2 separate regions of the Homo sapiens genome follow, and region 1 is linked to region 2. Evidence: fine-mapped expression QTL. A gene starts in region 2. The other region holds a variant in brackets. All regions are shown on one strand. Distances are between the middles of the regions. Region 1 has its middle 14 kb from the start of LINC02724. Region 2 holds the start of LGALS12 (galectin 12).

Evidence for each region. PIP is the estimated chance that this variant, and not a neighbour inherited with it, causes the effect.
Region 1: its variant is fine-mapped to the expression of LGALS12 in breast (GTEx, PIP 0.98).

Annotation. Positions count from the first base shown.
Region 1 is chr11:64,433,640-64,436,655 of GRCh38, forward strand. No RefSeq gene overlaps it. Among named protein-coding and RNA genes, the nearest start is that of LINC02724, 14 kb to the right of the region's middle. The variant A/G (reference allele first, on the strand shown) is at 1,363.
Region 2 is chr11:63,504,722-63,507,458 of GRCh38, forward strand. It overlaps LGALS12 (galectin 12), which reads left to right and starts at 1,363. Exons shown (of 9, transcript NM_033101.4): 1 at 1,363-1,806. The coding sequence starts at 1,738.

The DNA.
Region 1 (3,016 bases), 930 kb after region 2:
AAGCGATTCTCCCACCTCAGCCTCCTGAGTAGCTGGGACCACAGGCATGCACCACCACACCCAGCTAATTTTTGTATTTTTACTAGAGATGGGGTTTCACCATGTTGGCCAGGCTGGTCTTGAACTCCTGACCTCAGGTGATCCACCCACCTCAGCCTCCCAAAGTGCTGGGATTACAGGCATGAGCCACTGCGCCCGTCCGAGAGCCACCATTTAATGAGCACTTACTATGTGTGGGACAGACCGAGGGCCACTCAGCGCTGCAGGCCAGTGACCTCACAGATCCTTGTAAGAGCTCCCTGAATGGGCGTGCCCTTCAACCTGCTTCACAGATGTAGGGATGGAGGCCCAGCAAGGTCGAGCCACTTGTCCAAGGTCATGCAAAGTGCCGCCTGCCATCTAACTGCAGAACCAATTCAGACATTCGCCCTTGCCAAGCCCCGTCTTGCTGGGAGTTGCTCTGGCAATGAGTACTCCTTGTTGTTTTATTATTTACCTCCAGCTGTGCACCTGGATTTGTTGGGTGACCCATAAGACATAAAGGATGGAGGAGTCCTACTCCAGGCTGGTGCCTGAGTCCTGATTGTGTGTGGGGCCCCCTGCCCCCCACCCCACCCTGGGGCACTCAAGGCAGATCTGAGTTCTGATTGGCTGGACTGGCTTTGGGTGGGGCTGGTCTAGACGTGGTCAGTCTTGCACATTCACAGAAGTGCTCAGTGCAGTCACTGCCTGGGCAGTGGAGCTGGTGCTGTCTTTGGCATTCTCCCCAGTGTGGAACAGACTTTATTTGTTCTGCAATAGTATCTGACAGCATCCGGTTTAATGCATGCATGGAGGAAATACCCCTAAACATAGTGTCCCCCTCATCAGAAACAATGGCTGGACACGTGTGAACATTTAGGAGGTGTTGCTTAAGCAAACCAAGCTCTTACGAATGTGGGGAGGGAACACCATTCCCTACAATGATTGTGCCGTGTGAGCTCTGGTTACAAGGAAAGGGGTCCAGGGTGGGCCCGGGAGGTTCCTGTCCATGCCGAGCCTGGCTCACATCAGGGCAAGATCACCTCCACCCAAGGTGGGCTTGGGTGGACCTACTGGCCACCTCTCAGGAACTCAGAACAGCACTGGGTGCTTTTGTCTGGGATTTCAACACATCCCTCCAAGAACCTTGCGAGGCAGGGAGCATTGTAATCCCCATTTCACAGGTGAGGCAGTTGAGGCTCCGCTCACCTTGCCCATTCAAGGTCACGTAGGTGTTTTCCTAAATGGAGCCAGGATTAACATGCTGGTCTGGGAACCTTCTGTTCTCTTCCCAACTGACAAGGAAACTTCACTATCACGGATTCATTAAGACCTTAGATT[A/G]TATTTTCTCTGATCACAAGGGTAATATGTCGTGATTTCTAAAATAGAGACGTTAGAAAATATAGAGAAAAAGAAAAACATAAAAGTCACTGTGCCCCTATTCAGAGATAAAAGATGCCTATTCTTAGACTAGTGACTCTCCGACGGGAGCACGTGTGAGACTCACCTGGAGGGCTTGTTAAAGACACAGATTCCCTGGCCCCATCCTGAGTGTCTGAGTCGGTAGACCTGGGTAAGGGCTAAGGATTTATGTTTTTAATGATTCCTGGGTGATTCCTTTCTTTGGGACAACTGCTTAGATTAGGGTCTGTCAACCTCAGCACCATTGGCACTTGGGGCCTGCGGGTTCTCTGCTGCAGGGCTGTCTTGTACACTGCTGGGTGGTTAGCAACGTCCATAGCCTCTACCCTCTAGATGCCAGAAGCACATTCCCCCTGAGCTGTGACAGCCAGAAATGTCTCCAGACATTACCAAATGTCCCCTGGGGTGGGGAGCAAAACTGTTCCCAGTGAGCAGTCCTGTTCTATTCTTGTTTTCTTTTTTTGTTGTTTCTTTTTGAGATGGAGTCTCGCTCTGTCACCCAGGCTGGAGTGCAGTGGTGTGATCTTGACTCACTGCAACCTCTTCCTCCTGAGTTCAAGCGCTTCTCTTGGCTCAGCCTCCTGAGTAGCTGGGATTACAGGCACCCGCCACCACATCCGGCTAATTTTTGTATTTTTAGTAGAGACAGGGTTTCACCATGTTGGCCAGGCTGATCTCGAACTCCTGACCTCAGGTGATCCACCCACCTCGGCCTCCCAAAGTGCTGGGATTACAGGTGTGAGCCACCGCGCCTGGCCTCTATTCTTGTTTTCCATGTCCATTTATATTCGCACAGAGAGACACTCCTCCGTCACACACATGCACATATACACATGAACACATGCATGCACACACATGCAGAACACACATGAACATACATACATATTTTTCTTTGAGAATAATGTCAAACTATAAATACAGTTTTATAACTTGCTCTTTTTCACCTAACAACACATTGCCAATTAACTCAGCAATTAGCTTTGCTGGCAGCAAAGAGAAACAGGTTTTCTGCACAGATGATGTGGGAAGCATCACTGAGAGCCTACCACATGGCTCTGGGCCAGGAAGCGGGCAGCGGAGGGGGCACCTTTCAGATCCACCATCCTCTCCTCGGTGCAGGTGCAGGAAACTCCAACTTCGGGCAGGTGTGTCCACCTCTTACAAAGCTCTCTGTCTGGCTTCCAAAAGCTCTGGACTTAGCTTATAAGAAAAATGAGTCATCTGACAACATGGTTGTGAACTAGGACAGAGGTACTCAGGGATGCAGGGCTGTTCTCTCCAGACTTGCACCATCTTCCCCCCTCAGTGGGTTCTAGAAGTGGACCAAGAGACCCCAAGCTGGTGCAGAGTGAGTGTCCCCGGCTCTCCCCTGTTTGCCTGGGGGTGGCCAGGCTGGGACTGCATCAGGCAATGGCTGTGGCTATTGTCAGGCAGGCAGGCTGCCCACCACACAGGCATGAAAAAGGCCCTGGAGGGGGTTCCTGGGGCCTTCTATGGGATGCTGGCTTTTGCTATTCCGGTTATCCCTGAGGTCTCCTTGGCTGTCAGCCTCATGGTTCATTGTCTCCAAGCC
Region 2 (2,737 bases):
AAGCACCTTCAGTAACCCAGCTCCACCTACTCGGCAACATCTGAACAAACTCAGCTCCGCACCCAAAGCCCTTCTAGTTCCATCCTAAGTCAATGCTTCTCAAACTTTAAAGTGCATCAGAATCACCTGGAGGGGCTGTTAAAATGCAGATTCCTGGCCCCAGCTTCCAGAGAGTGCTCCTCAGTTGGTCTGGGGTGGGGACCCCAAACTTGCATTTTTAACAAGTTTCCAGGTGAGGCTGATGCTGGTGGCTTGTGGACCACAGCTTAGGTAGCACTGGCTAAGATACCTTATCCCAGGACCCTTCATGCACTCTCCCTCCATCCAGGGAGCTGCTTACTCTGCCCTCAGCACCCCATGCGCTTGAGCCTTTGCCCAGCCTGGTCCTGGTCCAGGAATTCCCTGCTGCCAAGTCTGATGCAATGGGTCAGATCCTGGAACCTCCTAACTCAGGATAAAGTTGAGAGGTTGTGCTGCTTTTTAAAGGGAAAGCCTTATTGGGATTTGAACCAGAACTGGAAGGACTGTAGTAAAATGCAGATATTTGGGCCCACCCCCAGATACAGGCCTCGCTGTGGGACATGCTGCTATGGTCACTTTCTCCATGTACAGATGAACAAAGGGTGGCCCAGAGATAGGAAGTGACTTTCCCAAGGGCACACAGCACATTAGACGAGAGGCTGAAGAGGAAGTCAAGTTTCAAGTCTCCCTCCTGCGCAGTTCTGTGCTTCTTGTGCTGCCTTTTCCAAGCTTAAGGGGCTCTGCTTTTTCCCCTTCCCTCATTCTACTTTCTTGTGACCCCAGCTGGGCCCCAGCATTTCCAGCTGATGCTGAAATGGAGCCTCAGGGGGCTGTAAAACTTGGAAAAGGAAGAAGAGTAGAGGAAGGGGCAAGAAAATGAGAGGAAGAGAGCCAGGCGTGGTGGCTCATGCCTGTAATCCCAGCACTTTGGGAGGCCAAGGCGGGCGGATCACGAGGTCAGGATATCGAGACCATCCTGGCCAACATGGTGAAACTCAGTCTTTACTAACAATACAAAAATTAGCCGGGCGTGGTGGCACATGCCTGTAGTCCCAGAGAGGATGAGGCAGGAGAATTGCTTGAACCCAGGAGGCGGAGGCTGCAGTGAGCTGAGATCGCGCCACTGCGCTGCAGCCTGGCAAGAGAGCAAGACTCCATCTCAAAAAAAAAAAAAAAAAAAGAAAATGAGGGGAAGAGATAAAACCCTTTGTGGTGAAGGGAGGAAGGAATGGGAAGTCACCCAAGGCTGTCCAGGGAGCTGGGGGTGGGGCTGTTTCTGGAACCTAAGCACACGTACCACCTCCCCTTCCTCTGACCTAATGAGGGCTCGAGTTGGAAACCACAAACCCTCGTTGGCCCCACAGGAGCCAGCCTCTGGCTTCTCTCTGCAATGGCCATGTGCTGCAGACCCGGAGTGGGTAGTTAGTTGGTTAATGCCAGTCTTCCTCCCCTGGACACTGAGTTCTGCTGACAGCCCCCGCCCAGCCAGAGCTCTGCTGTATACCACCGGGAGTGGGGCTGGTGTGGAGCCTGGAGGTCGCCCGCTGCCCTCCTAGGGCTGCTCCAGACAGCATTAAAACGCTGCAGGTCGCAGGTGAGACTAACAGCTGGGAGAGCTGCTCCAGGCATTTAGGACCCTGACTGGGGCAGATGAGTCAGCCCAGTGGGGGCAGGGCTCCTGGAACGAGGATCTACAGTTGGAGTTGCCCCACTGTCATGTCACCTGGAGAAAAACTGGACCCAATTCCTGACAGCTTCATTCTGCAACCACCAGTCTTCCACCCGGTGAGTTGTCACTCTAATGTGGAACCTCCTCGGTCTCTGGGCTCTTCCCTTCCAACTGGGCCCACACTCCTGGGTGGTGGGGTGGAAAGGACCTCAGTCTTTCTGCTTCTCCCAGCACCTGCCCTGGGTTCTGGAAGGCCCTCCTGAGCTTAGTAAAGTGGCTGACTGCTAATTCCCACTTGGGTGTAAATGACTGCTAGGCTTCCAGGGTCACTGCATTTTGAAAGTGGCGAAGCCTGGAGCCACAGTGCTCTGCCCCTACTGTAATGGATGCTAGGAGGATGAGGGTGTGGGGGTAGGATTGTTGGGGGAATGCTGATTACTTAGTAAGGACAGTCTCATCCCCAGCCTGGAAGGAAGGGTCAGGTGGGAATTTCCACTCAGGGATAGGGGTTGGGGGTGTTTCTCTCTTTCTCCTCCAGCTCAGTCAGTGCCCAAGAGGTTTTCTGAAGCCAGGCAATGATTTACAGAAGGCTGAATTCCCAGCAGACACCCCCTACTAATGAGCATTAATTATCACTTTCCCTTACTTGGCCCTCCCCTCCCATGAGAGCTGCATCCACTCAGTTAATTACAGGCCTGGAGGGAGCCTGGGAATGGGAAGTGATCAACTGCTGAACCAACCAGCTGAGCTTGCCAAGCTGGCATCCCAAGCCTCCCTCCCATGCTTCTCAGGTGCCTGAGGAATGGGCTGAAGCAGCTGCCCAGGTTACGGCAGCTCCTTGCTTTAGAGGCTGAGAGCTCGCACCTGGAGGGCCATCCTGGTGGTTTTCAGTTTTTTCTAGGTGGTTTGGGTTCCTAAAGGTTGTTGGGAGTTAGAGAGCAACACAGGAAGGCCAATCCTGTGATACCACTGGTATGTACCTGCCATCCTGCTCACATTCATTCCAAACACATCTATGCAGAGCCCTCACGGCGTCAGGTGAGGCAC